Homo sapiens: one gene and its partners. The protein of the gene in region 1 purifies or fractionates together with the protein of each later gene. This does not show direct contact. Each region holds a gene or a part of one and is shown in the gene's direction. Other genes may lie near its edges. The genes, in order: P2RX4, EIF2B3 and GALNT1.

The links.
Region 2: the proteins of P2RX4 (region 1) and EIF2B3 purify together in Homo sapiens (affinity purification with mass spectrometry; 3 studies listed by BioGRID and IntAct, with this or other methods). This does not show direct contact.
Region 3: the proteins of P2RX4 (region 1) and GALNT1 purify together in Homo sapiens (affinity purification with mass spectrometry; 3 studies listed by BioGRID and IntAct, with this or other methods). This does not show direct contact.

Annotation. Positions count from the first base shown.
Region 1 is NC_000012.12:121,212,995-121,216,744, forward strand, and holds part of P2RX4 (P2X purinoceptor 4), read left to right. Parts: intron 1-3,750. UniProt on the Homo sapiens protein: ATP-gated nonselective transmembrane cation channel permeable to potassium, sodium and calcium. CTP, but not GTP or UTP, functions as a weak affinity agonist for P2RX4.
Region 2 is NC_000001.11:44,979,942-44,983,691, reverse strand, and holds part of EIF2B3 (translation initiation factor eIF2B subunit gamma), read left to right. Parts: intron 1-2,514; 5' UTR 2,515-2,523; coding exon 2,524-2,671; intron 2,672-3,750. UniProt on the Homo sapiens protein: Acts as a component of the translation initiation factor 2B (eIF2B) complex, which catalyzes the exchange of GDP for GTP on the eukaryotic initiation factor 2 (eIF2) complex gamma subunit.
Region 3 is NC_000018.10:35,579,607-35,583,356, forward strand, and holds the start of GALNT1 (polypeptide N-acetylgalactosaminyltransferase 1), read left to right. Parts: upstream 1-2,133; 5' UTR 2,134-2,256; exon of another isoform or gene 2,257-2,262; intron 2,263-3,750. UniProt on the Homo sapiens protein: Catalyzes the initial reaction in O-linked oligosaccharide biosynthesis, the transfer of an N-acetyl-D-galactosamine residue to a serine or threonine residue on the protein receptor.

The DNA of each region.
Region 1 (3,750 bases):
ACTGCGGAAAATATCCATAGTGGTGTTGCACTGTATGGTAGCCACTAGTAACTTGCACCTGTTGAACACTTAACCGTTCCTACTCTACACTGAGATGTGCTATAACCTTAAAATACACACTGGATTTCAAAGACATAGTACAGAAAAAGAGGCTGGGCACAGTGGCTCATGCCTGAAATCACAGTACTTTGGGAGGCTGAGGTGGGAAGATCGCTTGAGCTCAAGAGTTTGAGACAAACCTGGGCAACATAGCGAGACCTTGCCTCTACAAAAAAATACAAAAATTAGCCTGGCATGGTGGCACACGCCTATAGGCCTACCTATTTGGGAGGTTGAGGCAGAAGGACTGCTTGAACCTGGGAGGTTGAGGCCACAGAGAGCTGTGATCACACCACCCTCCAGCCTGGGCAACAGAGCAAGACACTGTCTCAAAAAAACAAAGAGTACCACTATCACATGAAAACATTTTTTATTGATGACATGTTAAAATATTTTGGATATATTGGGTTACACAGAATATATCATTACAATTAATTTTTCCTGTCTCTTTTTTCTTTTTTTCTTTTTAAACGGCGCCTTGCTTTGTCACCCAGACTGGAGTGCAATGCACTGCAACCTCTGCCTCCCAGGCTCAAGTGATTCTACCATCTCAGCCTCTGGAATTATGGGACTACAGGTGCACACCACCATGACTGGCTAATTATTGTGTTTTTGTTTGTTTGTTTGTACAGATGAGAAATCTCATCTCTACAATCATGAGGTTTCCATGTTGCCCAGGCTGGTCTCGAACTCCTGAGCTCTAGCAATCTGTCTGCCTCGGCCTCCCAAAGTGCTGGGATTACAGGCATGAGCCACCGTGCCCAGCCCTTTCTATTTCTTTTTACTTTTTGACATGGCTACTAGAAACTTTTAAATTACAGGGTCTTGCCCTGTGGTAGCTCACGCCTGTAATCCCAATACTTTGGGAGGCTGAGGCAAGTGGATCCCTTGAGCTTAGGAATTTTGAGACCAGCCTGGGCAACGTAGTGAAACCCCATCTCTACCAAAAATACGAAAAATTAGCTTGGCATAGTGGCGCACACCTGTGGACCCAGCTACTTGGGAGGCTGAGGTGGGAGGATTGCTGTAGCCTGGGAGGCGGAGGTTGCAGTGAGCCAAGATTGTGCCACTGCACTTCAGCCTGGGCGACAGAGCGAGAGCCTGTCTCAAAAAAAAAAATATGTGGCTCGCGTTATGTTTTTATGGGACAGCGCAGCTCTGTAGGATTCCTTATGACGCATTCACTATCTCGGTCATGAGAATCTTTAAAGCAGTAAATGCTTTGCTTTTGTCCGTCTTGCTATAATCAAAACTGACTCAGGACCTGCATTAAGGCTCTTTTTTTTTTTAACCTCATCTCTTAACTTTTTGATGCAACTCATCTTAGTGAAATTGTGGTCTCCTCCTACAGCAACCCTCCCTCAAAAAAAGACCGAACACGCAATTCTCATCTATCTAACTCTGTTAACAATCATATGAGGAGGAAATAATCACATGATAATGAGTGGCATGAAACCCTGTGTCTCTAAATTAAGCAACTCACTGTACTTGATGAGTACATCAGTCTTCCTGCCCCAAGCTTTTGTGTGTCAGACTGGAATTAAATGGAAGCTTACACTGCAGCTGAATTCCTAGAAGCCCTGGACTTGTCAGGGGAAAAGCCCATGGGGGGAAAGCCCATCTCTAGGCTGGGCAATGAACTTGGAGACTGCTCGATCACACACACTCATAAGTAACAAAACCATTAATTTCTTTTCTTTTTTTTGGTGGAGGGACAGAGTCTCACTCTTGCCCAGGCTGGAGTGCAGTGGCATGATCTCAGCCCACTGCAATCTCCACCTCCCGGGTTCAAGTGATTCTCCTGCCTCAGCCTCCCGAGTATGTGGGACTACAGGCACCCACCACCACACCCAGCTAATTTTGTGTATTTTTAGTAGAGTCGGGGTTTCACAATGTTGGCCAGGCTGGTCTTGGACTCCTGACCTCAACAAAACCAGTGAATTTCTGAAGTCTCAGCATCTAGGACTTAGAAGAAGGAGAAGCCTAGCATTTCCTGATTCTATAAATAACAACACTGATAGTCTCTAGTAGATGTTTAACAGCAGTTCGAAGGGGAGGGGTTCTGATTTGTAGTACTGGCCAATTTCCACGGTGTCAGTACTTGCTCTGTGACCAACGATGACTCACAAACATTGTTGTAAACATTTGACCTACATTAATTCTTTTACCCTCACAAGAATCCTGTGAAGATCTACTATCATTCCCAGATTATAGATGGGAAAAACTGAGGCACAATGAGGTTAAGCACCTTGGCCAAAGTTATGCCTCGTGAATGGTGGAGCTGAGCCATGAACCAAGACCTCTGCCTCCAGTCTGTCCTAACCCCTATAAGCTAATGCCTGTAGATGGTTTTTTTTTTTTTTTTTTTTTTGAGACAGAGCCTTGCCCTGTCGCCCAGGCTGGAGTGCGGTGGCATCACAGCTCACTGCAGCCTCCGTCTCCCAGGCTCAAGTGATCCTCCCACCTCAGCCTCCCAAATAGCCGGGATTTTTATTGGACAGCACAGCTCTGTAGGATTCCTTATGACGTATTCACTGTCTCAGTCACGAGAATCTTTAAAGCAGTAAATGCTTTGCTTTTGTCCATCTTGCTATAATCAAAACTGACCATGCCCGGCTAATTTTTTATTTTTTGTAGAGATCCCTATGTTGCCCAGGCTTGTCTCGAGCTCTTGGGCACAAATGATCTTCCCCCCTTGACCTCCCAAAGTTCTGGGATTACAGGCGTGAGCCACTGTACCCAGCCCCTTTGGATTTTTAATTGTTCAAACTGGTAGTCATAGTCCCACTTCAGAGGAGAGAACCATATATGTGACCAGAATTCTTGGGGGAAAAGTAAGAAACTACTCTTAAAAGTTCCTTAAAGGGTAGAATTCTCTTTTCTAGAAAGAGTAGCCTAGGGTTGTCCAATCTTTTGGCTTTCGTGGGCCACACTGGAAGGAGAAATTATCTTGGGCCACACATTAAATATGCTAACACTAACAATAGCTGATGAGCTAAAAAACAAACTTTTTTTGATCACACAAAAAAAAATCTCATAACGTTTTAAGAAAGTTTACGAATTTGTGTTGGGCCTCATTCAAAGCCATCCTGGGCCGCATGCGGCCTGTGTGCTATGGGTTAGACAAGCTTAGAGTAGAGCATAGTGGGTGAGAGAAGAGGCTTCAGATGCTTCTGGCTTGAGTTCAAATCCTGACTCTGCCACTCACTAGCTGTGTGACCTTTGGCAAGTGACTTAACCTCTCTGTGTTTCCATTTCCTCCTCTGTAAAATGGAAATAATAATAATGATACCTGTCTCATAAAGTGGTCAGGATTAAATGAGTTAATACATATAAAGAGCTTAGATCAGTGCCTGGTGCCTATAAACACTCCAGTGGTAACTGTTATAATTTGTATTATCTCTTGGTGATTCCCATAGGTCACAGGCATTGAAAGTGCTCAAAGGGCCAGGTGCAGTGGCTCACGCCTGTAATCCCAGCACTTTGGGAGGTCGAGGTGGGTGGATCACCTGAGGTCAGGAGTTCGAGACCAGCCTGGCCAACATGGTGAAACCCCGTCTCTACTAAAAATACAAAATTAGCCAGGCGTGTTGGCGCATGCCTGTAATCCCAGCTACTTGGGAAGCTGAGGCAGGAGAATTGCCTGAACCC
Region 2 (3,750 bases), on another chromosome or scaffold:
CCAAGTTGGCCAGGCTGCTCTTGAACTCCTGACCTCAGGTGATCCGCCCGCCTGGGCCTCCCAAAGTGCTGGGATTACAGGCGTGAGCCACCACGTCCAGCTCATCTTTTGACTCTTAAGGGTCCAGTGCTCTTTTCATAATAACATTTGATGTGGTGGATGTTATATAATACCAAAATGAAATTAAATTACACTTTGAGGCAATGCTTGCTAGAATCTACATGACCATATCTTTACATTGTGAATGTTATGCAGGAGCCTTCACTTTGTGCCTTGGGTATAGTAGGTGTTAAGTGCTGCACTTTAGATGTTGATGTGCTGGGCCCAGGAGTAATAATAATTATAGTAAAGTTGCAACATTATTTGGCAATTTGATGTTGAATAGATTGTTTCTTCTGAACGTTACATTTTAACACATTTGTTCTTAAAATTACATCATTGTAAGAGAAAGTACTTTCAGTTTAAATCAGTAAAGATCGGTCAGGTGCAGTGGCTCATGCCTCTAATCTCAGCACTTTGGGAGGCCCAGGCAGGAGGCCTGAGGCCAGGAGTTTGAGACCAGCCTGGGCAGCATAGTGAAACCCCATCTCTATAAAAAATTAATTAAAAGAATTAGCCAGGCGGCCAGGTGCAGTGGCTCATACCTGTAATCCCAGCACTTTGGGAGGCCAAGGTGGGCAGATCACCTGAGGTTGGGAGTTCGAGACCAGCCTGACCAATGTGGAGAAACCCTGTCTCTACTAAAAATACAAAATTAGCTGGGCAGCTGGGCGTGGTGGTGCATGCCTATAATCCCAGCTCTTTGGGAGGCTGAGGCAGGAGAATCACTTGAACCTGGGAGGCAGAGGTTGTGGTGAGCTGAGATCGTGCCACTGCACTTCAGCCTGGGCAACAAGAGAGAAACTCCGTCTCAAAAAAAAAAAAAAAGCCAGGCATGGTGGTACCCACCTGTAGTCCCAGCTGCTCCAGAGGTTGGGGCAGGAGGATTGCTTTAGTGCAGGAGGTTGAGGCTGCAGTGAGCCATGATCTTACCACTGCACTTCCAGACTGGGCAATGGAGCAAGACTCTGTCTCTAAATAAACAATAAATAAATAGGATGGGCACGTGGCTCACACCTGTAATCCCAGCACTTTGGGAGGCCGACTCCGGTGGATCACCTGAGGTCAGGAGTTTGGGACCAGCCTGGCCAACATGGTGAAACCCCATCTCTACTAAAAATACAAAATTAGCCAGGCATGGTGGCCCATGCCTGTGATCCCAGCTACTCGGGAGGCTGAGGCAGGAGAATCGCTTGAACTTGGGAGGTGGAGGTTGCAGTGAGCCGAGATCACGGCATTGCACTCCAGCCTGGCAACAAGAGTGAAATTCCATCTCCAAAAATAAATACATAAATAAAGATTTATGACCTTCTACTGTGCCTCTGTTCTGTGGTAGTTTCTGTAAAGAGATTCTTTTCAAAGTCAAATAGGTTTGTTTATTACCTTGAGTTTGAAAAAAGGAATTAACAGTTTGGTTTGTTTTTATAATTGTGTTCTGTAAATCTAGGTTCAGATACAAGCCTACGTTTGTGTTTATAGTGATATCTTTAAAAATTGGAGGAATAAGATGAGCCGATGGCTGAATTATTGGAGGAGTCTTAAGTCATTTCATACTTTTCAGAAGCCTAACATGCTTGTGTTTCTGCTGTTAATTCTAGTCAGGCATCTTTTAATATTTTCTTTTTTCTCTCTTTTTTTTTTTTTTTTTTTGAGACAGGATCTCACTCTGTCACACAGGTTGGAGTGCAGTGGTCCAATCTCAATCTCGGCTCACTGCAACACCTGCCTCCCAGGCTCAAATGATCCTCCCACTTCAGCTTCCCAAGTAGCTGGAACCATAGGCACAAGCCACCACCCCTGGCTAATTTTTTGTATTTTTGGTAGAGATGGGGTCTCGCCATGTTGCCCAGGCTGGTCTCGAACTCCTGAGCTCATGTGATCCACACACCTCAGCCTCCCAAAGTGCTGGGATTACAGATGTGAGCCACCTCACCCAGCCTAATATTTTCAAAGAATAAAAATTCACACATCAGAAGTCCACTTGGTAAACTCTTACTTCTTCAGAGTCAGCTCAAGCATCACTTTCTATAAAAACTTCTCTGTGTTTTCAATGAAAACTAGGTGTTCCTTTTATTGTATGCCCACTGTATCTTGGATATTTTTCTGCTGTGGCACTAATGACATATATTGTGATTTACTGAATTTGTCTTCTCCACTTAATTGTGAATAACTCAAGGGCAAAGCCCCTGCATTCCTATCCTCCCACTTTTACCAAGGATAGAACTGAGAATACATATTGGTAGACATAATGTTTATCTGCAGCTAAGCTTTTCTTACTGTGATTGCTAGAGTTAGGAATTATGCATTTGACATAGTGGGTATCAGTAACCTAAATAAAAATAGGCTAGTAGTATGTGTGCTTTGATTTTTGTTACATTGTTTTTTTTCTGTTAATTGTTTTTTCTGTACTTGCAGTTTGTAAAAATGGAATTTCAAGCAGTAGTGATGGCAGTAGGTGGAGGATCTCGGATGACAGACCTAACTTCCAGCATTCCCAAACCTCTGCTTCCAGTTGGGAACAAACCTTTAATTTGGTACCCATTGAACCTGCTTGAGCGTGTTGGATTTGAAGGTGAGCTATGACAAAGTGAGCTGTGAACTCATAAAACTTTTAGGAGATTTGATCCCCATGATTTGTCAGCGTTATGAGAATGAGAGAGGGTGACTAGAACTCGTTGGCTGAAGACTGCCTTCTTTAAGGAATGTAGGAGTACTCTATTGCTGTGTGAAAAAGGTTGAGAGGATAGCACTAAGTGTTGTTGTTATGGAGCTGATGTCCACAATGATCCAAGACGAACTCTGTAAAGATATCAGAAAGAGCAGATTGAGACTCTTAAATGCCTCATAGTCAGTACTTACTGAGAATCTATTATGTACCAGGTAATATTTATATTATCTGATATTCAATATATATATGTTTTAAATTTTGTTTTGATGTAAGTACCAGGTTATATATTAAACACGGAGGTACAGAATTGAAAAGACAGCTCAGGCCCTGACTTCCAGAACTTTAAAGTCTAGTGATCCTCTCTACTTTTTGCTTGGGTAGCTAGGTAGATAGTTATGCCATTAAGTAGGAAAAGGAATAGGAGACAAGGAACAGGTGTTTTTTTTTTGAGACAGAGTCTCACGCTGCCACCCAGGCTGGAGTGCAGTGGCACGATCTTGGCTCACTACAACCTCCGCCAGGGTTCAACCTCTCCCGGGTTCAAGTGATTCTCCTGCCTCAGCTTCCTGTGTAGCTGGGACTACAGGCATTTTCCACCATGCCCGGCTAAGTTTTTGTATTTTTAGTAGAGACAGGGTTTCACCATGTTAGCTAGAATGGTCTCGATCTCAGGACCTCGTGATCTGCCCACCTCGGCCTCCCAAAGTGCTGGGATTACAGGCATGAGCCACCGTGCCTGGCCAGGAAAAGGTTTTAATGAATTTTATTTTCATTAAAATAATGAGTTCAGCTTTGGTCACATTGAGTTTGAGGTGTCCTATATTTAGATGTAATAAATCAGGGTGCCAAAGCCTGAGGCCCAGTCTTGTGATCCAGTGTTCATTCCATTATTAGAGTTGCCTCCAATAGGAAGGGTGGTAGCTTAATAGCTCTCTCTTTGTATTGAATGAAGATTTAAAATGTTGGAGTCTCACCCTGTCGCC
Region 3 (3,750 bases), on another chromosome or scaffold:
ACTTGGTGATAGTAACTTTTCAGCTGCATATAATCTTATGGGACCACCATTGTACAGGTGACCCATCATTGACCGGGGCATGGCTGTAAATAGATCCTACAATACAGGCTCTTACACATCTAGCTTCTTCCACTTAGCTTATCGTTTTTGAGGTTCCTCTATGTTGTATCTTCTATGACTACTTCGTTCCTTTTACTGAGTAGTAGTCCACTGTATGGCATATACTGCATTTTATCCACGCAGCAGTTTCTGGACATTTGGACTGTTTCTACTTCTTGGCTATCATGAATAACACTGTTATTAATATTCATGTACAAGTTACTGTATGAATTTATCTTCAGTTCTCTCAGGCATACGCCTAGGAGTGGAATTGTTGGGTGATAGAATACTTCATGTGTAACTTTTTAAAAAACCTGGAAAACTGTTTTCCAAAGTGGCTGCACCATTTTACATTTCCATAGGCAACGTATGAGGGTTCTAATTTCTCCATCTCTTCACCAACACTGCTATTGTCTGTCTGTCTTTTGTACTACAGCCAGTGTAGTGGGTGTCAAGAACTTCCTTGTTGTGCTTCTAATTTGCATTTCCCTATTAACTAATGATGTTGAACACCTTTTTATGTAATTGTTGATCATTTAAATATCTTTGGTAAAACGTCTATTCAATTGTTTTGCCCATTTAAAATTGGACTATTAGTCTTATTACTGAGTTGTAAGAGTTCTTCATACATTCTGGCTACAAGTCCTTTAACAGATATATGATTTGCCAATCTTTTCTCCCAAGATAAGAGTATTTTTTAACGATGACAACTTTATTCCAAAGTGAAGTTTCCTTGTGGAACAGTAACAGGCTAGTCATGATTGACTTTGTTTCAAAATATTATATAAGTACTTTTAAAATAGTAACTTTTAACTTTTATTTTAGAATACTTGGAAGATGTAGACAAGCAAAAACAGGATACTAAAATTCCAGAGATAATCTTCAGGTTTTTTTTTTTTTTTTTCGGACAGCCTTTTGGTTATGTGAGAGGTAATATAAATTTAAAAGTGGGACCACTTAAATATTAAGTAATCTCTTATTGCAGCTCTTGGTTGGCAAGCAATAAGACACAAACCTCTGAATTATTTAAGTAGAAAATTAATTTATTAAAAGAATGGTTGGTTATGCCTCGCGTGAGTGACAGAGCCAGGGTTTTGTCTTCTATCTTCAGGGCAGGGTACAGCTGGGTATTGGAATTGTACCAAGCAGTGTTTCCCAAGGGGGCACAGAGGGAGGGCCCCTCTCCGGGCACTGTGCGGGAGCCACTTCCCCAAACAGTCCCCGTTCTGCAAGGGCCCCGGCGTTGCTGCCCCCGAGACCCGGGTGCCTGCCCCGGCGGTGCGGGTCGCGGGCCTCCGCTCTCGCCGTCCTCCCTCAGTCCCGGGCCTCCTGCATCGCGGTCGCCAGGCGCAGGCTCAGCGCGGCTGACAGCGCTCCAGCTCCCGCGCTCGCGGCCGCCTCAGGCAGCCGACCGGGTTGGGGCGGCCCCGCGCTCGGCCCGGGAGCCGATCCGCTGTGAGGGCTCCTCCATCTCCTCCCACCCCGTGACCTGCTCGACGCGCAACAGCCCGAGTTGTCTTTAACTTGCTGCGGCAGCCTCTTTGTCCCGACCCAGGGTCGGGGGCACCTCTCGGCCTGGCCCGGCCCTGCCCGTAGCCGTGTGAGCGGGGGCCGGGACTGGGCGGTCGGTCCGGGAGGGGCGCCGCGCCCGACCCCGGAGTCCCGAGCCCGAGGGGAGCGTCGCGGCCCCGCGGTGGGCTCGCCGCAGCGGAGGGGGCGCGCATCCGGGTGAGCGCCGGCGCCCCCGCCTCCCCCGCGCAGCCGCACGGGCCGCCGCCGCCGCTGCCGCCGAGCACGCAGCGCAGGGAGGACCGCGCCCGAGCGCCTGCGGGCGCCCTGCGGCGCCCGCCGCGCGACGAGCCCCAAGTGAGCGGGCAGGCGGCGCGCATGCGGGGCGGCCCGGAGTAGCGCCGCCCGAGCCCGCGAGCGGGGCGCCCGGAGTAGCCGCCGACCCGAGCCGGGCGCGGAGGCGGGGGCGGGCGCGGCGGAGCGGGGCCCGGCCGGACCCGCCCGCCCGCCGGGGGAGCCGCCGGCAGTGGCCGAGGAGCGCGCGGCGGACGGCGGCCCGAGAGTAGCGCGCTGGCCGCGGGACCGGCCGCGACCGCCGCGGCCGGCCCGGAGGACGCCTGCCGCCGCCGCCGCCGCGCGCCTAGCGAGGTGAGTGTATCGCCCGCGGCTGGGCAGTCCCGGAGCCGCAGCGCTGCGCGCGGGTCGGAGGTGGAGAAAGAGGCCCCGCCGCGGCCGCGTCCCCGGTCCCTTTGTGGCCGGCGCTGCCTGGGGCCGGGGCGCGGGCACGCTCGGCGCGGGTTCGGGTCTGGGACCCCGGTGCCGTTGGACACGCGGCGTCTCTGGTTGGCAGCTTTGGCGAGCAGCGAGTTTCCGTCCTAGTTTGACATTGAGTTAGAACCGTTTTTCTTTAGAAGACGGAAGTTTGTTTTATTGACAAAAATAAAGCTAAATATGGCTTCTGGGTTCGGCCGTGTGGTACTTGCAACCGCGGTGCCAGCCTGACCCTCGCGGCGCCACGGGGGAGGGGAAGACACGCCGGCAGCGGGGGAGGGGGCTTCCCGGCCCGCTGCCCCCGAGGAGGACCCGGACCTAAATTAGCAAATGTTTGTGGTTGGGAAGTAGCGGGCTTTAGGTAATGTAGTAGCTTTTCCGCTTTTCCTGGAAGAATGAATGAATGAGATGTCATTTACTCATCCATAATCAATACGTTGCCCATTTAAGCATTTACCAGGAATTGGGATGATTTGCATTGTCATTGCTTCTCTTATCTGGTCAGCCTTGCTAGATGAGGTTCCCTTACTCCCCAGATTTGTGACCTTGTCCTCATTCTCAAAGCCACTGAGCTAACCAACCCGTCTACCAAACTCACTTGGCATTTTTTTGGTCAAGTGGGCAATAGGCAAAGTAGTCTTTCTGAACTGTTTCTGGAGGGCAGAGAATGTCACTTTGATCATATCTTATGTTTAATACATTGCTTTATAATCGTGTCAAGAACGCTGAGAGTTAGGAGGTCTTGTCATTTCACAGATGAAATAGTGAAGGCCCTAAGAAGTTGCAACTTTTCAGGTCACAATCTGAGCAGCAGAGTTGGGATTCAAACCTAGACCTTGTTAGTCCAGTCCTCTTTACATCACATCTGTGTCCAGACCTGGACTGTCCAGCGTGGGAGCCACTAACCACATGTGACTATTAAAATTAAATTTTAAAAATTCAGCTCCTCGGTCACAGTAGCCACATTTCAAGTGTTCCATAGCTAAATGTGGTTCTTTGCTACAGTTGAACAGCCCTGGTCTAAATTATACATACATTTGTTGTGTCAGTAAATATTTACTGAATGCGATCTGTCTATGAGGCACAGTTTTAAGTTCTGGGTACATGGTGAATAAGGGAGACACAATGTCCTTGCCCTATTGGAATTGACATTTTACATGATCCTTTGAGGATGTTTCCATGGTACTCCGAGTCCTGCTATTCCAAGTGTGGATGGTGTACCAGCAGCATCCCTGTCACCTCAGACTCAAGTAATGCAGAATGTGAAGCCCCGCTGCACATCAACTGAATCAGTATCTGCTTTACCAGGATTTCAAGTTATTTGTGTGCACTTTGAAACCTGAGAAGCCTTTGTTCAGCGTGCTGGTGATA